3 separate regions of the Homo sapiens genome follow, and all the other regions are linked to region 1. Evidence: fine-mapped QTL for protein levels in blood plasma. A gene starts in region 1. Each other region holds a variant in brackets. All regions are shown on one strand. Distances are between the middles of the regions.

Region 1 (8,277 bases):
GTGCTCAGAAGAGCATTATGTAATCAGGGAGTACAGAAGAGAGAGCAACCAACTCCTTACAGAGATTGTAATAAAAGATTTTCCCAAATTAACAAATGAGGTGCTTTGTTGTCCCCCAAGCAAAGTTTCGTATATTTTTTAATTATATAAACAATACATTTCATTATGGGAAACATATACATAAAACAAAAAGCAAATATCTACAATTCCATCCCCTGCCCTAGACCACTATAAATATCTGTTTATATCTTTCCAGATTTTTTTCTATGCATTTATACACACATGATTATGTTGTTTTCGGGATCACACCATATTATTTTGTAAACTGTATTTTCCACTTAATAAATCATAAATACTATTTTATCCAATAGATACCATTCTGCAACATTTTAAAATTTTAACACTTTTTAAAAACTTGCCTCCGTGTATCTAGTTGTAACTAATTTTTATTCTCGGACATTTAGTTTGGTTTCTCTTTTGGCCATTACCAAATGTACTGTGATGAGACTTTACATTTTGGGGGTGATACAGTTTGGATGTCCCATTCAAATTTCATGTTGAGATATAATCTCCAGTGTTGGAGGTGGAGCCTGGTGGGAGGTGTTTGGATCATAGGGGCGGATCCCTCATGAATAGCTTGGGCCATCTCCTTGGTGATAAGTGTGCTCTCACTCTGAGCTCACAGGGATCTCATTGTTTATGTGGCTCCTCCCCCCCAACTCCTTCTTGCTCCCGTTCTCACCATGTGAGACATCTGCTCCCCATCACCTTCCAGCATGATTGGAAGCTTCCTGAGGCCCCCCCAGAAGCAGATGGCATTATGCTTCCTGTACAGCCTGCAGAACCATGAGCCAGTTAAACCTCTTTTCATATAAATTAACCAGCCTCAGGTATTTCTTTATAGTAATGCAAGAATGGCCTAACAAGGGTGGGGGGAGGGGGGGCAGTTTTTTTTTTTTTTAAACACACACACAAAAGAAAAGCCACAGAGACATATGTGGCCTTCAAAGCCCAAAGTATTTGCCATCTGACCTTTTATAGAAAATGTTTGTATTATAAATTTCCAGGAATGTAATTTTTAAGTCAAAGTGTGTGAACATTTTTGACGCTTTCACTACATTCTGTCAAATTGCTCTCCAGAATCGTTGAGCCAATTTACACCCTTCTCAGTAATGTATGAGTTTCTTTAGTTGCTATACATCCTACTCCAAGGGTCACTGGCCCAAATTACTAGCTCTGAGTATTATTTTATTCTCAATTTGATGGTGCATTATCGTTTTAAGTTTTTACTTCTCTTAAAAATGTTTGGCCATTTACATTTTTCTCTCATGATGACGAATTTGCATTTTGCTCATTTTTAGTAGGCTATTTTTTCTTTCTAAGTTCTCTTTAATGTTATGCTTATCTGTCATGTATATTGCAAATTTTTTGTAATTTTTACTTGTTTTTAAATTTTATTCTATGGGGTTTTTTTTTGGATAAAAGAAGTTAAAAGTTCAACAGTCAGATCTGTCACTTTTCCTTTGTAATTTCAGCCGTTGTTTCATGCTTAGTTTGAGATTAAAAGCAATTCACTTGTATTTTCTCCTTGCCCTTTTAAGACTTAAAAACATTTAAATCTTTTAATCCTGTTCAAATTTAGTGTCTGGGAAACATTTTAGAAGGATGAATAGGTAATATTATGTTAGTCCTGGAGTCAGATTGCTGGGTTCAAATTTAGCCTCACCAAATACTACATATTTCTGCAAATCACTTAAACTCTTTAAGTCTTAGTTTTCTTGTTTATAAAATGGAGATAACAGTAACATTTACCATAGGGTTGATGTAAGAATTAACAGTTATAAATCACAGAAAGTACTTAGCACAGTGTCATTAGCTATTATTATAGCAGCAAGAGAATACTCTCCCAGGCAAAAGCAATAACATGTATAAAGGTGCAAATGTATGAAATCTGTTTGCATATTCAGGGAACTAGATGTGGTGTAGTAAAATGAGGTGTAATATTCAAGGGGCAGAGTTGACAGATGCGAGGGGTGATGGGTCTTGAATGAGTTGTTCAGGAACTTGCTCTTGATATTATCAGAGATTGGGAGCCAATGAAAGCTTTTAAGCAAGCAAGAAACCCTGCAGATGTGTGGTAGCAAAGTGGAAAATGGACTAGATTCCGCCAGGTGCAGTGGCTCACGCCTGGAATCCTAGCACTTTGGGAGGCTGAGCTGGGCGGATCCCCTGAGGTCAGGAGTTCGAGACCAGCCTGGCCAACATGGTGAAACCTCGTCTCTACTAAAAATACAAAATTAGCTGGGCATAGTGGCAGTCACTTGTAATCCCAGTTACTAGGGAGGCTGAGGTGGGAGAATCGCTTGAACGAAGGAGGCAGAGGTTGCAGTGAGCCAAGATCATGCCACTGCACTCCAGCCTGGGCGACAGAGTGAGACTCTATCTTAAAAATAAAAAAAAAAGAAAAGAAAAGAAAAGAAAAATGGACTAGATTTATATCCCTTGCTCCACCCTGTCTTCCCCAAATTTAAATTCCTGCTTCCTAGAGGCAAATTCTTTCACCTTCTATGTCTCTGGTATTTATCTCCTTACTTTTAAGAATCATGTTTAAATTGTTTCTTGATTTTGCCATCATAGATATGATTATGAGGCTAATTAAACAGTAATCCTAACCGCTCTGAGAATGGACCTAAGAAATGAATGTGAGAAAGAAAGTAGAAGCAGCCCACTTGCTAGTGAGTGAAAGCCAGGGAAGGGTGGGGGGATGCGGGGAGAAATTGTCTCAAGTTGGAGAACCCAGGTGCAGGCTGGGAGCAGTACCATGAATTCCATTCAAGAAGCCAAACGTTTTAAGCACCATTTCCTGGAGTTTGCCAAGTTGAGTATTGACCCAGCCTCCTGTCTTGTTGGTTCCTCACTGCTGAAGAAGACCAAGTGTTGACAACTCAGTGAGGCAGTCTCAGCTGGAGTGGAAAAATGTAGCTAAGAAAACGTGCCAGACAAAGCTTTAAGCAGAGCTTCCCAACTGGATGCCGTGAAACGAATGACAGGGATGCAGATACAGCATGGGTCTTCCCAGCCCTCCAAGTGCAAGGGCTTCTGCAGGAAGCCTTCTGCAGGAGCAGCCTCTTCTGTTTACCCCCATTTTGACCCTTGTAATATCATCCTTTCCTACCTGTGCCAAGAAGTGAAAAGGTGTGTGAAGCGCCGCTTTAGAAGGCCCAGTACATTCACAAACATCAGCTTCTGGGCGAGGCTGCTTGGCCTCTTCTATTCAAAACTTTGTGTTGCCCTTTTAAGGTTTCTATTCCCCCCACCCCCACCCCGCCCACCAACACCCATTCCTACCTAGGTTCAACCCAAACCATCCTTAAGGTACACTGAGTATCACAGCACCAAAGGCTGGAGAGAGATAAGTTCCCCACCCTTGATGCGCTTCCTGTCCAGGTGGCCCGAGGCCCACTCCTTAAGAGGCAAGGCCCAGAGACACTGCTGTGTCTTGAGGAACATCCAGTACACCTGACATTTCCATTAGAACAGTGGGACCCGGATACCACTGGCAGGAAGTCCATCTTCACAGCTGCCAACCCATCTGTCAAACCCGCAGTCCCCTATGAGAGTACAGATGAATGGAGGAGGAAGATTTAAAAGTGAATTCGTGGGCGGCGACAAGGAAACAGCAGCCGTGGCCAAGCTGACCCCAGAGCCCTTCCCTTCCTGGCCCTCCCTCTGAATCATCGCGCTCCACTTGTGACGTCGCGGACGCCCGGCTCGGGCAGGCGTGGGGGGCCCGCGCGTCCCGGGAGCCCCGAGGCGGCAGCGCGCGTTTCCACGCCGCGGTCCCGCGGGAAAGCCGGGGGCGGCGGCCTGGCTGAGGCCAAGCTCGGATCCGGTGCCGAGCCAAGCGGGGCCGTGCGTCGCCGGGGCTTCGCCTTCGCTCGCGTGACCTCCGCCGTCCTCCCCAACCCTCGTCCTCTGGCCGCGCCTGCGGCCGCACGCCCAGCGCCCCTCGCCTAACCTCGCGCCCGGGCCGCGCCTCCTCCTCCTCCTGCTCCCCGCCGCTTCCGTTTCTCGAGGGAAAGGCTGCTGCCTCCTGCTCTGTCCTCATCCCCGGCTTAGGTAACACGTTTTCCTCCTTACGACACCCACCACAGGGTCCCCGCGCCGCTGCCCCTCCTCCTTGGATCTGGGGCCCGGGCTGGTGAGCGGCGCGCGCCGTCGCCTCTCCGCGGGTAGGTGAGTCGATGGCGCCGGGAGGGTTCCTCGCCTCTGCGCGCCGGCCTGCGAGGTCCCTGCCCCGGCAGCGAGGCCGCCCCCGGCCGGGCCCGGCCAGGCATGCCCGGCATCGCCGCTGCAGCCAGCGCGGAGGGGAGCTCGTGAGTCCCGCGGCGCCCTTGGCCCTGCCCGAGCGGCCCGATGGGGTTGGGGGGCGGGAAGAAAGGGTGGCAAACAACGATTTTAAAAATCCAGTCATTAGTATTTGTAGGACGAAGAAGCTGATCTGACAGTTGTCCAGAGCAGTGGCCCAGCTGCAACAGGTAGATGGCGCAGCTGTCAGTGACCCCTTGGTCTCAGCCTTGGCTTTGAGAGATGCATCTGAGTGTCCCTAGCTGCCAGCTACCTCCAGTGACCTACTTGATGAGTGTGAAATAAATATGATGGGACTATATTTAGAAAAATCTTTACTTCCTTGCTGTTAATTCTCTCTGCATTTTGAAAGGTGGTTTTGTGAGGTGTGCATAATTAGTTGGTGTGTCCAGAGTGGTAGCTGGAAAAAAATATTTAACCTGGGTTTGGCCCTATCATGTAGACGGTTAGGCGCAAAGAGTGTGAAAGGAAACGCTTACTTTAGTACATCTGTGAAAAACACTTATAAGAAACCACGGCTTGTTTTTTGGAGATTTCTCATTTTAAAGGTATTTTTAAAGTGTTGAATAAGCAGAAGTTTGCCCACTGTATGATGGTGTTCACTTCAAAAGAACAGTGGGTTAAAAGTATGGACAGACCACTTAAGTGGATCCCATCTGTTGAGTAAAAGATTTTTTAGCCCTTTTACACTGATTCCTAGCTTTGAAGCCAGAAAAGTTGATAAGGATCAGCCCTGCTCAACTTGATAATAGTATAAGGATGAAAGTAATCCACTGAACTACTCTTGATTGGTGAATTAGCTAAGTGATCTCATTCTTACCTTTTAAAATAGAGAACATAAGGGAAAAAATAAAGGCAATGGAAGAATTCATTTTTTCAATACAGATATTTGTTTCCATTCTTATGTAGAGCCTACTTTATTTTTAAGTTTTTATGGATTTTTATACTACTTTTGAAGTCAGCTTAGTCATGAAGAGAATTATGTCAAATACATAGAGTTACACTGTACTTTTTGTGTAGAATAAGCTACCACTTTTCAAGCTTTTGGACTAAACCACCGCTTGCTTGGAAATTGCAGCTTTGACTAATGCCCTTTAAAATGATATACCTTATTATAGATTTAAATTATAGCTTTCCTTGTTATAGTCCTGAAAAAAATGAAAAGATAATTTCTTGTTTGACATAGAAGGCCTGTGAGACAAAAGTTATAAAGGTTATTATATATTTATTTTGCTTTTTAATTCTGTCTCTAATAACAGTTAGAAAATGTCTCATTCTATTTCATGTTATACAGAAATTGCTTAAAAGATAATTATGTTATATAAAGTGATCAATGAAAACAAACGTCATCTTCATTTTTTAAAGGTGAGGATGGTGTATATAAGCACTTTTTCCCGATGTGAGTCCTTATGAATGTTCTTGTTAAAATACTTTGAATCTTGTAATGAAGTTAATAAAACTATGTTAATGTGTTTGGCTGAGAGCTTAGAAATAAAGGCTCTGGCTGGCGTGGTGGCTCACGCCTGTTATCCCTGCACTTTGGGAGGCCAAGGCAGGTGGATCACTTGAGGTTAGGAGTTCGAGACCAGCCTGGCCAACATGGTGAAACCCCGTCTCTAGTAAAAATACAAAAATTAGCCAGGCGTGGTAGCAAGCACCTGTAGTCCCAGCTATTCAGGAGGCTGAGGCTGGAGGATCCCTGGAACCTAGGAATCAGAGGTTGCAGTGAGCCCAGATCGCGCCACTGCACTCCAGCCTGGGCGACAAAGCAAGACTTCATCTCAAAAAATAAAAATTAAGTTAAAATTAAAAAAATAAAAGTTCTGCTTCCCGTCTCCTGTGATTGATGTTGGGTACTGTTTCTCAAACTTGTCTGATTGTAAAATTCCTCAGGGTAGTAGGCAAGTCGGGGAGTGGGTAGAGTATAATAGTGGTTTAAAAGATTCCCAGATTGCAACTTGAGACTTCCTGGATCAGAATTTCTAAGAGAAAGGAGATATTTCAAATAGACAAAAATGATAAAATTTTAAAATAGTCAACAACAACAAAAAAGGTGAGTTTGGGAAATGCAGGTGGGAAATGACTATTGTTGGAATGAATAGTTGATAAAACTTATTAGGACTCCTGTACATAAAATGTTCATATATGGAAACTGATTTTATTAATATGATGAGGCCACTCATTTAGGAAATCTGAAACTTTTATATTTTTTTCTGGTCAAGCTTCTGCTGATCAAATTTAGCAAACATATTTTTGCATGTTTAGTCTTTTTTATGTGGTATGTAATGTTAATTCAATTTCTTGAATGTGATAAGAGCATTTTATTAATGGATGACTAATGCAGATTACTGTAACTAGTAATCCACAGCAAAATATTGTACCTAATAATTTCTCTTTCTTTTTTTTCTTTTTTTCTTGAGAAAAGGTCACACTCTGTCATCCAGGCTGGAGTACAGTGGTGTGATCATGGCTTATGCAGTCTCCACCTCTCAGGCTCAAGGAATCCTCCCACCCCAGCCTCCCGAGTGTCTGGGACTACAGGCACGTGCCACCATCCCAGCTAATTTTTAAAATTGTAGAGATGGGGTCCCACTATGTTGCCCAGGTTGGTCTCAAACTCCTGGGCTCATGACATCCTCCTGCCTCAGCCTCCCAAAATGCTGGGACTACAGGTGTGAGCTGCTGCACCCAGCCTAATTTCTTTCATATTATAGATTTATTTGTTACCTCTTCCATGTGCCTGATTAAATAATTATAGGCAAGACAGGCATGCAAATTTGAATACCTTATTAGTAGCTTTTTTTTTTTTTTTTTTTTTTGAGACAGAGCCTCACTCTGTTGCCCAGGCTAGAGTGCAGTGGTGTGATCTCGGCTCACAGCAACCTCTGCCTCCCAGGTTCAAGCGATTCTCCTGCCTCAGCCTCCCGAGTAGCTGGGATTACAGGTGCCCGCTACCACACCAGGCTAATTTTTTGTATTTTTAGTAGAGATGGGGTTTCACAGTGTTAGCCAGGATGGTCTCGATCTCCTGACCTCGTGATCCACCCGCCTTGGCCTCCCAAAGTGCTGGGATTACAGGCGTGAGCCACCACACCTGGCTCCTTATTTGTAGCTTTTTAAAAAATGACTCTCAACCCCATTCAAAAAAGAAAAAAAAATTTATTTGGCCCTAAAACTTGGTCAGTTATATATAAAAAAATTAAAGAAATAGAATATTAAATACCTATAAAATAATTTGACAAGATGAGTTACCATAATGGAAAATGTCAGAATTTATTTTCCTTTTCCTTCTTCCTCTTTACATTGCTTTTCTTTCTCCTTTTTTGGGGGGGGATGGAGAGTGTGTGTTATTTGCTCATTTGTTTTTATTTTTAACCAACTAAATATTTAAAATATAGTAAATTATCCATGTTTAAATTAATTTAAATATTTGCCAACTTTACCAATAGATATTTAAACTTGCCCTTTTCCTCTAAAGTGACAGTGGTAGGCTTTGCTCAATGCAAATGAGAGTAATAATTCATATCAAAGGAGTTAAATTCAAGTGACCAAAGAAAATTGTTCTTTTAACATTGCTTAAGGAAAGCATAACTTAAATTGATGCCATAATTTTTCATTATCAGCAACTCTTAAAATGAGGATGGAGGCTGGGCATGGTGGCTCACGCCTGTAATCCCAGCACTTTGGGAGGCCAAGGCGGGTGGATTACCTGAGGTCAGGAGTTCGAGACCAGCCTGGCCAACATGGCGAAACCTGGTCTCTACTAAAAATACAAAAATTAGCTAGGTGTGGTAGCGCGTGCCTGTAATCCCAGCTACTAGGGGGGCTAAGGCAGGAGAATCGCTTGAACCTGGGAGGCGGAGGTTGCAGTGAGTCAAGATCGTGCCACTGCACTGCAGCCTGGGCAAC
Region 2 (8,000 bases), 22 kb after region 1:
GTGGGGAAACAAACGCCTGAAAATAAAAACAAAATCGAATGTTATCTATCCTCTAATTCCTTCTATCCAGTCTCAAGTCGTGCTTTTAGATACTTGATCAACGAAATTGCCTTGTATAAGCTACTGGGATGTTGTTTAAGAGCAATAGTTAAAACATGTCCTTTGCAAATATTCGAATTCTATGGCCCTTAAGTAGAAGGATGAAGTTTCTAGAAGTACTTTTGCAAACTAAACAGGACATAAGGGAACCAGGCATCTACCATGATTTTGACTTTCTAGAGGGGCAAAAGAACAGAAAAATATTAGAAAATTAAGCACTGAGCCAAGTTGACTTCGTTTTTTTATACTTGGATTGGTTTCTAGAATTGGAAATTTTGGAATTTCAGTTCTGATTGTGCTATTTAATTTGAAATATAAAATTGAAATCTGTTCAGAATTGAGCATATGTGTGGGTTTTTGTTTTGTTTTTCGTCATACTCTGAATCATTCAGTTTCCAGGCTTGGAAAAAAATATTTTTGGAGAAGAATCCAATGAGTTTACTAATGACTGGGGTAAGTATAAGAATCTTAATGTGTCTTTGTAATTTAATTATCATATGGTATTCTAGTCTCTAGTTTATACCATGAACTAAATGTTTGGAAGCCACTTACTGTAAACAACATAATATATTTGAATGTTAAGGTTCATTCAATTTCTACCTCAGAATATCATGCCATTTAACTTAAGTAGAGAGATGTGGTATCTTAGAATAATTTAGCAAGTCCATGTATCATTTTAGATATAAATCTGTGGCATTTAAGTAACTTATAACTCAAGCTTTGGGAAAATTGCATGGCCCTTTGGGAATCTAATGTAAGTTATTAATGCCCCAAAGATGCCCATCTACAAAATTATGCAGACAATTTCAGATCCTAGGTTTAAACCCATCTGTGCGCTCTTGGGGGAAGTCCATGGACCTTGGCTAAAAGTACAGAGGTGGCCATGGTTCTGAAATACTGTGTGATCTTGAGCAAATTAACTCATCATTTCTCTAAGTCTCAGAACCTCTGTGAAGTACTTGGATTAACTAAAAGATTCCTTTTAGTACTAAGTTTTTTGGTTTGTTTGTTTGTTTTTGAGACAGAGTTGCTCTGTTGCCCAGGCTGGAGTGCAGTGGCACAATCTCGGTTCACTGCAACCTCCACCTCCTGGATTCAAGCCATTCTCCTGCCTCATCCTCCTGAGTGGCTGGGATTACAAGCATGTGCCACCACACCTGGCTAATTTTTGTATTTTTAGTTAGAGATGGGATTTCACCATGTTGGCCAGGCTGGTCTCAAACTCCTGACCTCAGGTAATCTGATTTCTTTCAGAGAAACAATTTTTTTTTTTAGTTTGTTTGGATTTAATAGTAGAAGAATAAAATAGTGAACATTAAATACTGATCATGTGACAAATACTTATATATCTAGAAACACAATTACAAAGAAAAAATGAGTTTCTAGATTAACTCTGAAAATTTTTTAGTCTCCTTCATGCACCACATATTAAGATGCAGTTAGTTCTATGTTAGTAATACGGGAAAGAAATCTTTTAAACCTCTGAAGGTTAAAAATAACACTTATGCCTGACTTATAAGCAATCTTACATTTAAAAATCTACGCTTGACTACTTCACAAACAGCTATTTTAATACATCATTTGTCTAGAATTATAGAGGCAAAAGGCATAGCCACATCCATTTTCCTGTTTGTTAAAAGGGCAGAGAAATGTGGAGAGAGGAAGAGGAGAGATGGTGATGATGATATTGCAGGCAAGACCAGATCATAGGAAGGGATTTAGATTTCCCTCTCAGTGGGATGGGAGGTCTCTGGCAAATTTCAAGCAAAGGAGTGATATAATTTCTTCCTTTGAATGATCCCATAAGTTTTACTGAGCCCAGAGTAGGTGTGCAGTAAGTAGCCATTATTAGCTTTATTATTCCCCAACTTTAACAGTCTAATTTACTTTGAATTAAGTTAATTTAACTAAATTTGACTGTTTCTTGCTGATTCAGTCATCACTGTAATAGATGTATATTGTGCTTCCCACACTTTACTGGTCATGTAATCGCCTCAGGATCTTGGTTAAAATTCAGTAGGTCGGCCGGGCGCGGTGGCTCACGCCTGTAATCCCAGCACTTTGGGAGGCCAGGGCGGGTGGATCACAAGGTCAGGAAATTGAGTCCATCCTGGCTAACACGGTGAAACCCCGTCTCTACTTAAAAAATACAAAAAAATTAGCCGGGCGTGGTGGCGGGCGCCTGTAGTCCCAGATACTCAGGAGGCTGAGGCAGGAGAATGGCGTGAACCCGGGAGGCGGAGCTTGCAGTGAGCGGAGATCGCACCACTGCACTCCAGCTTGGGTGACAGAGCAAGACTCCGTCTCAAAAAAAAAAAAAATTTCAGTAGGTCTGGGGTGGCATCTGAGGTTCTGATTTTTTTTTTTTTTTTGTTAGATGGAGTCTCCCTCTGTTGCCCAGGCTGGAGTGCAGTGGCACAATCTTGGCTCACTGCAGCCTCCGCCTCCCAAATTCAAGCGATTCTCCTGCCTCAGCCTCCCAAGTAGCTGGGATTACAGACATGCTAAGCTACCTGCCACCACGCCTAGCTAATTTTTTTATACTTTTATTAGAGACAGGGGTTTCACTATGTTGACCAGGGTGGTCTTGAATTCCTGACCTCAAGTGATCTGCTTACCTCAGCCTCCTAAAGTACTGGGATTACAGGCATGAGCCACCACGCTCAGCCTAAGGTTCTGACTTTCTAATAAGCTCCCAGCTGATATAGACACTGCTGGTCCTTGGAATAAGAAGGGTAGAAGTAGCTACCTAGATAGCTACTAGATAGCTAGGAGTATCTAAAACGTTCCAAAGTGCCATGTTTTCTTAGTTTTTAAGATTTTTTTTCCTCCACTGCTGTCACTTCTTGTTGCTATTAACTTGCCTATTTTTTACCAGCCTCTTCCCTCACTTCTGTCAAGGGCTGAAACCAGATTAATCAAGGGTCTAAGAAGCATGTTTAAAGCGATGGTAAAGCACCTGGCCTCGGTAACTTATCGTTTCATTTGAAGAAGCAGCTTTGCTTATGTTCTGGTTCTCAATGGGCTCCACAGAGGAGAGCTATTTATATGTATACCATTTAGAGGCATAAAGTTTTACTACATTTAAAGATTGGTATATACCATTTTATGTTACTTAGCATAAACAATTTTAAGTTAAAAGCAATATCATATAAGGAGGTAGAAGCACTTCGGTGTGTTGAAAAACCTCCATTCTTTTCAATAACATATTCAGACACGGACAGGGTGACTTAAGTATATAAAAAGTCAAAAGACAAATTTTAAAAAGATTAATGATCAGGAATTCAGGAATTGTTAACTGGCCTATGTATCCCTTAACTGGGATACAAAATTGTGCCCACATGGGCATTTTTCTAGGGAGGTCTTTTGATTCCTGAAACCCATCTCTTACTATTCAGGTTAAGTGCCTGGGTAGCCACTGAGCATCTGACTTGATGAAGCCCCACCAGGTGATTCTGGCAGTCAGCCAGGCATAGGAACTGCTGGGATGGATATATTGCCCTCAATCTAAGTGCACAGCTTTTGATTCACTCTCTCACTGGCTCACTCTCTCTCTGTCTCTCTTGCTTGCTCTCTCGCTCTCTCTGTCTCAATCTTTGTCTCATTCTCTCGCTGTCTCTCTCGCTCTCTGTCTCTCTTGCTCTGTCTCTCTCTGTGTCTCTTGCTCTGTCTCGCTCTCTTGCTCTGTCTCACTGTCTCTCGCTCACTGTCTGTCTCACTCTTTTGCTCTCTCTCGCTCTCTCGCTCTGTCTCGCTCTCTCTCGCTCTCTCGCTCTGTCTCGCTCTCTCTCGCTCGCTCTCTGTCTCACTCTTTTGCTCTCTCTGTCTCTCTGTCTCTTTCACTCTGTCTCTCTCAGTCTCTCCCTGAATCTCTCGCTCTCTGTCTCGCTCTGTCTCTCTTGCTCTCTCTCGCTCTTTCGCTGTCTCTCTCGCTCTTTGTCTCTTGCTCTCTGTCTCTTGCTCTGTCTCGCTCTCTCGCTCTGTCTCTCTCTTGCTTGCTCTCTGTCTCACTCTTTCCCTCTGTCTCTTTCACTCTTCCTGTCTCTCTCTCGCTCTCTGTCTCTCTCGCTCTGTCTCACTCTCTCTGTCTCACTCTCTCGCTCTGTCTCTCTCTTGCTTGCTCTGTCTCACTCTTTTGCTCTGTCTCTTTCACTCTCCCTGTCTGTCTCTCTTGCTCTCACTCTGTCTCACTCTGTCTCACTCTGTCTCACTCTCTCTGTCTTGCTCTCTCTGTCTCTCGCTCTTTTGCTGTGTCTCTCGCTCTCTCTGTGTGTCTCTCTCTCACTCTCTTGCTCTGTCTCTCTCGCTCTTTCGCTCTGTCTCGCTCTCTGTGTCTCTCGCTCTCTCTCTGTCTCTCTCTCTCGCTCTCTCTGTCTCTCTCACTCTTTAGCTCTCTCTCTCTGTTCTTTCTCCACTGAAACTCTTGAAATGTAATGGCTTATCGTGTGGCTTTACCC[TA/T]GGGGAAAAGATTACCTTGAGGTTGTGTTCAACAGAGGAGGAAACAGCAGAGCTTCTTAGCAAAGTCCTCAATGGTAACAAGGTGGCATCTGAAGCATTAGCCAGGGTTGTTCATCAGGATGTTGCCTTTACTGACCCAACTCTGGATTCCACAGAGATCAATGTTCCACAGGACATTTTGGGAATTTGGGTGGACCCCATAGGTAAGTATAGGAAAGTATGTTTGTTCTTATTTGCAATCTTTTTTTTGGTGGTGGGGTTGGGGATGGGTGTTGGAAAAATAAAAATTATTGAGTGTAGTTTAACTCTGCTAGAAGTTTTTAAAATTTTAAAGTTTTAAAACAATGAGAGTTGAGGTGTATGTGTCATGTGTTCTGTATATATACATATATATTATAGCCGTGTGTATATATATACATATCTATAACAGGTGTGTGTATATACACACACATACATACAGGCACACATGCAAAGATGAATTAACTTCTCTTCAAAAGACTTCAGGGACCAGACTGGTAAGTAAATGAGAGAATGAAGTGAGAGCAGTTATGACCAATTGAGCACACATACCATTTAAAGAGCACTTAGCTTTAGCAGATTGTTACCATATGGGAGTACAGGCCAGCTCTTCAGATTTTTAAAGAGAAACCAAAATCCAAGGTTTTCAGCGATATATCCCAATTTCTAACCGTTAGCTACTAATTCAGTTAAAGAAGGAAACAATCAAAAAAACACAGTACAGGTCAAGCAAAAAGCTGAATGTGACGCATGAGCAGTTTGTGAGCCCTGCATGAGCTCTACATTTTTTTTGGTCATGATTGTGATAGAACCATAATGTATAATCCATTGTTTTGAAAATGTAACCCTTTTTTTTGAGACAGAGTCTCGTGTTGCACACAGGCTGGAGTGCAGTGGCACAGTCAGAACTCACTCACTGCAGCCTTGTCCTCCTGAGCTCAAGCAATCCTCCTATCTCAGCTTCCCAAGTAGCTGGGACCCAAGTAGGTGGCAGAGTTGCATGCCACCTCACTAGGCTAATTTTTTATATTGTTTTTAGAGAAGGGGTTTTTACCATGTTTCCCAGGCTGGTCTCGAACTCCTGGGTTCAAGCGATCTGCCTGCCTTGGCCTCCTAAAGTGCTAGGATGATTACAGGCATGACCTACCATGCCCAGCCAGCCTTTATCTTCAATGATGCTATTAATACAAGTTCTAGGTAATAATTTTAATAAGCTCCCCCTTCCTTTTTTTTCTTCCCCACCCAACACAATGGGACCATTCAAGGACCAGGCAAACTCCTCTCTGGGCCCTTCCCATCCTACAAGTGCATTCACAGGATGATACTGAAATGGGTTTAATCTTCAGATAATTATATCACATTCAGCCAGTGGATGATATATGGAAACTAAAAACCTTTCCCCAAATCTTTGATCATTTAAGGGTAAATTGGCATCAGTTATAGTTTCTGAGGGACAGAGATCTCCTGTTTCTTGGTTCCACCCTGAATTGATTCTGTTTTTGAGCTCTTTGAGTCTTTTGCCAGGCACATCCTTAGCCGTGTGTTGACTCCCTAGACGTCAGCAGTCAGCTGCTGGCATGTACATCTCTTAAGGGGAAACCTAGTTTCTCTGCCTCTGTTTCATAGGAGCTCCGTTAATTTCTTTTTTTGGTGCCACCATCATTGTCTCTTTCTTCCTTCTAACTTGAGGGACCAAATAATAATAGTAAAAGATAATATTACCTGTGACCTATTACAGGAGGGGGGCTTTTCTTTTTTTCTTTTCCTTTTTAAAATGTTTGTGGGTACATAATAGGTGTATATATTTATGGGGTAGATGAGATGTTTTGACACAGGCACACAATGTGAGATAAGCACATCATAGAGAATGGGGTATCCATCCCTTTGAGCATTTATCCTTTGAGTAATAAACAATCTAGTTACACTCTTTATTTTAAAATGTACAGTTAAGTTCTTATTGATTATAGTTACCCTATTGTGCTATCAAATAGTAGGTCTTTTTTTTTCACCCATTGGAAGGAGGCTTTTCCATCTCACATTGTACTAGTCCTCTGATTAGTAGTATTTCTAAAATAATCCCACCAATTATTCTGGTTATTACTTTTTCAATGCTTTTGATAAGTAACAAATATTTGAATGCCTGTTATATACAAATTGCTATGCCACAGGAACTATAGACACATCCTCTCCCTTCAAGAGTTCTCACAGTCAGGAAAATGAAACACAAGCAATTTAAAAGTAAAGTACAAGAGGCCAAATAACAATTCAATACAGTGACATCCAAAGGTAAAAAATTATTGGTTACCAAATCAGTAGAAGAGAGAAGTCATATGGAACAGAGTCTTCTAAATGATCTTTACCTGAATCCAAACACATTTGTTTCCTTTTTCAGATTCAACTTATCAGTATATAAAAGGTTCTGCTGACATTAAATCCAACCAGGGAATCTTCCCCTGTGGACTTCAGTGTGTCACCATTTTAATTGGTGTCTATGACATACAGACAGGGGTTCCCCTGATGGGAGTCATCAATCAACCTTTTGTGTCACGAGATCCAAACACCCTCAGGTAAAAGGCAAATATTTTTGGTATATTATGGTTGTTAGAACTTACGACCTCAGCTTTGCTTGTTGTTAGGATTATCACTATATGACATTCCCATGACTTAACACATGGGAGTGTTGCCATTGAAAGTCTGCGTATTTGAATTAAAGTTCTATTTTCAATCTTGGATTTGCGTAATTTTATTTCAGGCCAAGTGCATGCTGGTAGAAATTTTAAAATTAATACTATCCTGTAGAAATCATAGTTTTACATTTGGAATATAGTAATCCTGTTCCCTGTTTCTAGAATCCACTCAAAACCAGATAAGTAGAGTGGTGGTAACACTGCCTTCCAATACATTGGGAATAAGACAGCTGCCATCGCTGTATAGCCAGTTGAACTTTGGTATAATTTTAGAAGTTCAAAACAAAATGTGAAAATTATCCAATGAAAAGATTGGTAGGCATGGCCAGGATCAGAACCTAACTCACACTCCCTTTCTGCCTCCTCCCTTCCACTCTTCCATGCACTCTTAAACAGAGCGTAGAAAGTGGCCAGGACTCAGCTGCCTCTGATCCATGGCCTGTGCTTTGGGGTTGACTCCAGGGCATGGCAAAGTCCAGGTGGAACAAGCAGTTCAGCTTTTTATTGAAATAGGTCATATTTTTTCACTTATATAGGATTACATATTTTTATTGAACCTGAGCTGCTTCAAGTAACAATCATTTGCTCTTTAATAGTCATAAGTTTATACCTCTTAAGTTTTAATATTTTCCCCCTACCCCCACCATCTTCCAAACTAAAAATAGGTTTCTGCTATCTTTAAAAGGTTAATAAGAAATTAAAAAGAATTGGAACAATATGCAGACATAATCATGGCCT
Region 3 (8,277 bases), 57 kb before region 1:
TAACTGTATATTCCTAGTTGTTACGAGAAGGCCAAAAAAAAAAAAAAAAAGGTAGGATAATCCTTGCCCTTTCCAGACCATCTAATACAGTTGGAAAGATGAGATATAAAGTAACAATAAAGTACAAACACCAAATTTAGAGTACAGACTGAAAGCACTGACTCAATGAAAGAAGAAATCACATCTAATTGTAGTGTAAGTTGAGCATCCTGAATCCAAAACTCTGAAATCTGAAATGCTCCAATGAGCATTTCCTTTGAGTATCATGTTGGTGCTCCAAATATTTCAGATTTTGGAACATTTCCGATTTCAGATTTTTAGATTTAAGATTTGTTAGATATGAGTTCTAAATTTCTCTTCAAAGAGTCAATGTCAGTATGTTCAATTCTTTGCCTTCTACTTTTAAACTTAACTTCCTCATAAAGCAACCTTTTTCGATTACCTGCTCCACCCTGACTCATTCCAATTTACTGCTCTGCCATAACCATTTTTTCTGCCAAACCACTCACCCCATCACTCTCTTTAAAGTAGCCAATCAGAATTAGTTTAGCCTGTGCGGTCTAACCCTAGCCAATAGGGGAATGACACAGCAGCACGGGCCATGTGCATCAGGAATAAGAACTCCTTTGCCTCCCTTGTCCAGGTGTATGCTCACCATTGCTCCATCTGTAAGGGCACACCCTTCTATAGTAGTACATTTCCTTGCTGAGAATTAAAAACAAAATGTTACATTCGAGTGCTATTTCTTTTGCGGCACTGAAACTTTATTTATAACATATTGTAAATATTCCAAAATCCAAAACACTCCTCGTCCTAAGCATTTCAGACAAGAGATGCTCAATCCATAATATTTATGGCTATTAAAAAAGAGGGAAGAACTTCAGTCTTTAAGGATGCATGTGGTTGGGCATACCTGATGGAAGAAAAGACACAATATTTTTAAGGGAGCTGATAAAATATAGTATAAAACAAACTTTCTCAGGGGTTCCTCATCTGAACCACAGATCACTGCAAATGATGTGATTATATTCTCAATTCTCCCAAGGATGGTACATAACTAGTACCATTCGAGAAGCACAGGACAGAAATAGGAGCTAATTTATTACATTCAAGGGATGGCTTAGAGCCCTAGTTCTCAAATTAACATGACTCAGAATTACTTGGAGAGCTTGGCTTGTTCAAACAGACTGCTAGGCCCCAGCCTCGAGACTGATTCTCTAGGCAAACCCAAGAACATTTTAGGGCACTAAGACTTAATCCTCTGGTGGAGTTCTGGTTAAGAAAGGCTGATATAAAGTATATCTTTATTTGAAAGTTATTTATGTTCTTTAAATACTGAAAACAGAGACCAGTATGAAGAATCAGCAGCATCTTTACTTCATTTATTCAAGACAACATTATCTTGATCTGTTTCACTGCAGTCTTTTCTTTTGAAATAAATATTCTTGGTTGTTACATATGAGGAATATATACAAACATTATACCAACCTATACAAGCCCCAGAACTGAAGAACATGGCCAGTGCCTTCAGAAATGATGTGCTAGAGCAATATAATTCTCAGGCTTCTGTAAAAAAAAAATGGAAGTTCTGCCCACTTATAGCACCAAAGGGCAGCTTACCAATCCTTTCATATCAGAAGGAGTCTTGAGTTATAACTTTAAGTGATCTCTTGGTCAACTAGACCAAATAGTTACTGAAATATTCTCAGTAATATGTCAGCAATATATTTACCATTTCTGATAATATTTTTATTTTATATTTATACTAAATAACGACTTAGTTGGGGAGAAAACTCTTGGATCCTAACTACTTCACAACTTCTCAACCCATTGACTTCTGTCACATTGTGTAACAGAGAAATCTGAAGAAATCTGTATATAACGTATATCACTAATCACCCCATTTACCTTGATTCCTTGGCCTGACTACTCACAGTTAGCTTTTTTTTCTTAAGGCTTATAATTTTAAAAAATTTACCTGAGCTTTTATCTAGGTATGGGTCTCTTTTCACTTATCTGAAATTTCGTGTTTCCTTTAATTATACATATCTGAGTTTGGGAGTATTTGTTTTTACTTAAAGTCTTATTTCATTATATCTGATCATCATTTCTGTTCCAAGTATCTGATTTACTTTCAGTGGAGTACTTATCACTCCTTTGTTGGGTTCCCAGTAACTTTCTTTCATAGTCATTACCTCAAAACATTCATTTTCATCACTTATATATTTTTTTGAATGCTTTGTGAGAGTTTCTCAAGTTTGTTCTCCACAGATACTTCACTATCTGTAATATTAAATTCATCTCTTTCTAATCTACTGCCATTAAAATAAAATGTCAGCTTTGCTACTGTGTATTAGTTCCCAGTCATCCTCCCTGTTTCCTGTTTCCCTTTTTCAACTTGTAGCCCTTTCATCTGAGTTTGCTCTATCCTTATGGGATTTCTTTCCTGTTTTAATGGGGTCACATTTATTTTTACATGCTGTTGGGTATGCCCATTGTTTTTGTCTTCATTTTTTCCTGGTTTCTTTCACATTCACAGGGCAGCTCTTCCTTCAATGCTTCAGATTCTTTCCCTTCCTCTTACTCTGCAGTACTTTTTTCAGAGAGCTTTCCTTTTCCCCAGGTTAAAGCACAACCAACCCACGCTCAGTTTCTGCCAAGCAGAGGTACAGATCACCCTTGCTAGTAGAATCCCTTCCCAAAATGATGTGCAAGATCTAAGCAATTCCCGGTCCTTATTTAGGGTGGTTCTACTAGAACAAAGGGGGAACTTCCTGTATTCCAAATAGTTAAGTTCCTTAAAACATTGAACAGGTGGAATTTCAAAAATTCCACCTTTTGGCCTCATACTACCTACCTACCTAGGCTCTACCTACCTGGGCCCTACCTACCTATGTCCTACCTATTGTCACGGCTCAGGATATGCTACCCCAAACTACGGCCACTTGGAGGCCACTGTGACCTCCCCCCGCCTTTCTGTGGGACAGCTGGCCGTAAAGAAGTTCTCTAACCTACCTCTTCTGAAAGTATGTCTTTTTGTTTTGTTTTGTTTTTTGAGACAGAGTCTCACTCTGTCACCCAGGCTGGAGTGCAGTGGCATGATCTCAGCTCACTATAACCTCCCGGGTTCAAGCAATTCTCGTGCCTCAGCCTCCCCAGTCACTGAGATTACTGGTGCACACCATCACACCCAACTGATTTTTGTAGTTTTAGTAGAGATGGGGTTTCGCCATGTTGCCCAAGCTGGTCTCGAACTCCTAGCCTCAAGCGATTTACCCACCTCAGCCTCCCAAAGTGCTAGGATTACAGGCATCAGCCACGACACCCGGACTTGAAAGTCATTAAACCCTCATGTGACAAGGGCCCCATCCTATACCTGGAGGAAAGGAATGTTACACACAGAGGCCAAGAAGAATCTCAACAAACAAGCCTACCTAAGTTCCCCCATTTATTACTACTGAATAATACCGTTTTTGTCCAATCATACTTCTATATGACTGTCCATTGTTCACTGAACTTACACACAAAAACAGTTTTTCCTGGATCTGTGGGTCTTTGGGTCTTCTTTTCTGAAGGCTCCCATGTCATGTAAAACTTTGATTAAACAAATTTGTTATGCTTCTCTATTGTCAATCTGTCTTTTGTTATATGGATACTGGCCATGACCCCTGCAATCGGTGAGGAAAAGACATTACTTTTTCTCTCCTCCACTACCTTTCTAGGCTCAGTTCAATTCACCATCTTCTCCATGCAGCCCTTTCCTGCCATGAAGACCAATTCTGACCCCTCACTTCTTCAAAGGCTAATCTTTGTCAGTACCATACAATTTACCAATTGTTTTGTAATTATTTCATGTTTTCTCTAACTCCAGGTCAAGTTAATCAATGCCAGTTACATTTTAGACTTCTCTGTAATAGCACAGAGGCAGAATATTTGTCAACTGACAGAAATGCAGTTACAGAGAACTTCAAAAAGAATCC[A/G]AACACTTCCACTAAGGTGAAATTTTGAGTAACAGGTACAATTTAGGCAACCAAATCTCTAATACTGAATTTAAAAAAAAAAAAACTCAACATTCTAGTTTCTCTTCTGAAGTTTCTGAAAAGAATCAGTTTATTTTTAAGTAGAAAAAAGGCTCTATATATTAAAAGATAAAAACACAATCAGTTTCCATTGCTTAAAAAAACTTGCTAATTCAAAAAGTTAAAATAGCATATAACGTGTGTGTGTGTGTGTGTGTGTGTGTGTGTGTATACATATATTTTTTTGTTTTTGAGACAGTCTCACTTTGTCACCCAGGCTGGAGTGCAGTGGTGCAATCTCAGCTCACTACAAGCTCCACCTCCTGGGTTCAAGCGATTATCATGCCTCAACCTCCTGAGTAGCTGAGATCACAGGTGTGTGCCACCATGCTCAGCTAATTTTTGTATTTTTAATAGAGGCAGGGTTTCGCCATGTAGGCCAGGCTGGTCTCAAACTCCTGACCTCAAGTGATCTGCCCACCTTGGCCTCCCAAACTGCTGGGATTACAGACGTGAGGCACCATGCCCGGCCATATAACATAACTAAGAACATAAAATATTCTTTTGGGCTGGGATAGTCTAAAAGTGCTATAAGCAAATATTATATCTCAAATCTGTCAGGATCCAAAATCCACACAATTATGTTTCAATGAGTTCTATTATATTACATTCATCAGCTCACTTCTGTTTAATAATTATTAACTTATTTTTAATACAACTCACTCATACAATGATCAGAGTAAAAAGTCTACTTACCCCACCCATTGTAATTCCATGAATAAGTGCAACATAAGGTTTCTGGCAAGAACCTGAAAGAAACAGAGCTGTAATTTTAGTTACAGTGTTTAAAATACATTCCCTTTTTCTTAAAAAAAAACCCACATTATATATACTCAAGATTTTCCCTAGGAAATTTTAGCAAGAAACACCAAAGACGACTAAATGTATGGCTTATAAAATACATATTTTTAAATGTCAATCCAACACAATCCTATCTATTCATTATCATTTAACAACTTAACCTTCGATTTTAAACAAAAGCCAGGGCCCAGTGTGGTGGCTGACACCTGTAATCTAACCTCTTTGGGAGGCCAAGGTGGGAGGATTGCTTGAGGTCAGCAGTATGAGACCAGCCTGAGCAATACAGCAAAACTCCCTCTCTTAAAAAAAGTATAGCCAGGTGTGGTGGCAGGCACCTGTGCTCCCAGCTGCTCAGAAAGCTGAGGTGGGAGGAACACTTGATCACTTAAGCACAGGAGGTTGAGGCTGCAGTGAGCTGTGATCATGCCACTGCACTCCAGCCTGGGCAACAGACCAAGACCCTATCTTTTTTTTTTTTTTTTTTAAAAAAAGGAAGAGCTATGTCACATTATGGTTGGGAACATTCAATATCAAAGATGTCAATTCCCTCCAAATTAACCCATAATTCATTCTAAGTCTAATCATAATCTCAGTAGAAACTTTTGTGAAACTAGATAAAACAATTCTAAAATTCATATGGAAGATCCAAAGTCCAACAGCAGCCAAGAAAAAAGACATGTAGAAAAAGCATCTTAAAGAATTTGGAAACAAAGTAATGATGCATAAACACTATGATCTATCCATTCTACATATTATTTCTGGAGAAACTTTTGCACATGGGAAATAAGGGACCACATACTAGATAGAGTACAACTATCTATGTTAGTAACTACTGGAAGCTAAAATATCCATTAATGTAGAACAGATAATTAATGTGGGATATAATCATAATATTGGATACCACAGAAGAGTTACATTCCATGTTGTTAAAAACAATTTATGGAATGGTTACACAGTAAGATAGTATTTATGTAAATTGCTAAACACAAAGTAAAAATCTTTTAGTTCAAACTTAAAATAAAAGCTAAAAAACAAAAGGAATTGGAAAGCTTAAAAAGCAGCGGCCTCTATTTGTCTACTTTGCTGTATAAAATATGATACAATGCTCTGCATTTCTATTTTGTCTTTAAACTTACACCACACCAGGTGCGTGGCTCATGTCTGTAATCCCAGTACTTTGGGAGGCCGGGGCAGATGGATCACCTAGGGTCAGGAGTTCGAGAGCAGCCTGGCCAACAGGGTGAAACCTGTCTCTACTTAAAATACAAAAATTAGCAGGGTGTGGTGGTGCATGCCTGTAATCCCAGCTACTCAGGTGGCTGAGGCAGGAGAATCACTTGAACCTGGGAGACAGAGGCTGCAGTGAGCCAAGATCGCACCACTGCACTCCAGCCTGGGTGACAGGGCAAGACTCTCTCTTAAAAGATAAATAAATAATAAATAATAAAATAAAAATAAACTTATGTTTTACTATTTTAAATACTTTAATGTTAAATGAGTATACAGCTTTTTTCATCACTTAGTAATTATTTTCATCAATTCATATTTTTAGAAAAACATATATATCCCCATGTGTTTAATCTACTAGATATTAATTCATGTTTTTATGCCAATATATAAATGTTTATTTGTCTAAAAGGCACATGACAAAAACTGAATTTATTTTTCCAACTATATGTCAAAATACGTTAATATCATGTATTCAATCAAATTCTAACTTAAAATCTTTTAGTTCATAAATATTTAGTAAAAATGTCAAATATGGTCTAGGAGAATACACTAAAAATTAATGACAATGGTTGTTTTTGAGGAGGGATAAATGGTTGCTTCTGGGGAAAGTAATGGCACTGAGGAAAGCAAAAAAATGGGCTGAAATGTAACTTCCAAACTTGCAGTATTATATTTCTTTTGGAGAAATTTTAAATCATCAAGCAAAAACAAAATATTGACGTCTGTTAATTCTGGGCTGGAGGGTACACAAGTACTTATTATGTTATTTCCTGTATCTTAACTTCGCATGCTAGATAAAAGTACTGCTTCACCTCCAATGAAACCTAGAACCTTGAATATAAAGAAATTTTTATTCCTAAGAATTAGGAAATGATACTATACTTCATTTCATAGAGAAAACTGGAACCCAAGTTTTTTCCCCCAAGAAAGCTACCACATGATGAGAAATCCATATTTTCATATTGATTTATTTTTGAGACGGAGTCTCGCTTTGTTGCCCAGGCTGGAGTGCAGTGGTGCAATCTCGAATCACTGCAACCTCCACCTCCCAGGTTCAAGCTGATTCTCCTGCCTCAGCCTCCCGAGTAGCTGGGATTACAGGCACTTGCCACCGCACCCAGCTGATTTTTGTATTTTTAGTAGAGACGGGGTTTCAGCACGTTGGCCAGGCTGGTCTCAAACTCCTGAACTCAGGTGATCCACCCACCTCAGCCTCCCAAATTGCTGGGATTACAGGCGTGAGCCACCATGCCTGGCCTCATATTGATTTTATAACAAATAGCAGTTAAGTATAGCCTACTAATATTAAAGGGTAACTGTTCTGAAATAAGCACTTAAAATAGTTTAATCAACTTTACTTATGCCTGGCACATGGTATTAAAAGTTTAAGTAAGGATGCCTATTGATTGCATTTTTAACAAAGTACATACTGTCCACCTCATTTCTTTATTCCATTTCCAAAGCTCTGAGCAGAATACACATACCAACAGCATTATTCAGCATATATTCTTCTCTGAAGAAAACTGGAGCTATCTTCTGTTTTGCCTTTTCAGCTTCCGAGATCACTAGGAAGGAAAGATTACAAATAAAAAAAAAAAGATTTAATAGTCAACATTGTCAACTAGATCAAAAGTATTATGAAAATTAAATACTGGGGGAAGGGAGTACTCTAAAATGACTTGTTAAAAGTTTTGAAGTTGCCCCTGCCACAGACATTATATTATAGTCACAGATCCATAGTCCAATGTCAAAGCTTCAAGGCAAAAATTCCTATTCTTGTTTTCCATGCTTCTTACAAAATGTTAGATTAGAAATTATAGGCTGGGCATGGTGGCTCAAACCTGTAATCGCAGCACTTTGAGAAACCAGGTGGGAGGATTCCTTGAGGCCAGGAGTTTGAGACCAGCCTGGTGAAACTCTGTCTCAACAAAAAATGTTTAATTAGCTGGCTGCAGTGCCACATGCCTGTAGTTCCAGCTGCTCAGGAGGCTGAGCCGGGAGGATCATTTGAGCCCAGGATATTGAGGCTACAGTGAGCCATCATCACACCACTGTACTCTAGCCTGGAGAGAAGAGTGACACCCTGTCTCCTTAAAAAAAATAATAATATATTGCAACAAGCTACATTTTCTTTTGATTATTTTCTCTAGCACTTAAATTAACATTT

Alleles and levels. Positions count from the first base shown, and alleles are read on the strand shown. Strength reflects both the effect of a copy and how common the allele is.
As copies of TA replace T in region 2, the plasma level of the protein whose gene starts at base 3,747 in region 1 goes up (moderate association).
For the plasma level of the protein whose gene starts at base 3,747 in region 1, G is the low allele of the variant in region 3 and A is the other (moderate association).

What was found. PIP is the chance, under the fine-mapping model, that this variant and not a neighbour inherited with it causes the effect. The UK Biobank Pharma Proteomics Project read protein levels with antibody pairs (Olink). The fine-mapping took linkage between variants from a reference panel, not from the people measured, so its PIPs are less certain.
Region 2: its variant is fine-mapped to the plasma level of the INPP1 protein (UK Biobank, PIP above 0.99).
Region 3: its variant is fine-mapped to the plasma level of the INPP1 protein (UK Biobank, PIP above 0.99).

The regions. Positions count from the first base shown.
Region 1 is chr2:190,339,843-190,348,119 of GRCh38, forward strand. It overlaps INPP1 (inositol polyphosphate-1-phosphatase), which reads left to right and starts at 3,747. Exons shown (of 7, transcript NM_001128928.2): 1 at 3,747-4,119. LOC124906109 (serine/arginine repetitive matrix protein 1) reads right to left here and starts at 5,207. Exons shown (of 1, transcript XM_047446773.1): 1 at 1-5,207. The coding sequence starts at 4,474. The coding sequence ends at 3,596. RefSeq lists silencers at 3,733-4,042, 4,113-4,442.
Region 2 is chr2:190,362,136-190,370,135 of GRCh38, forward strand. INPP1 (inositol polyphosphate-1-phosphatase) reads left to right here. Exons shown (of 7, transcript NM_001128928.2): 4 at 492-552; 5 at 4,560-4,760; 6 at 6,968-7,142. Among named protein-coding and RNA genes, the nearest start is that of INPP1, 23 kb to the left of the region's middle. The variant TA/T (reference allele first, on the strand shown) is at 4,557.
Region 3 is chr2:190,282,811-190,291,087 of GRCh38, forward strand. HIBCH (3-hydroxyisobutyryl-CoA hydrolase) reads right to left here. Exons shown (of 14, transcript NM_014362.4): 5 at 7,595-7,675; 6 at 4,776-4,828. Among named protein-coding and RNA genes, the nearest start is that of HIBCH, 33 kb to the right of the region's middle. The variant A/G (reference allele first, on the strand shown) is at 3,981.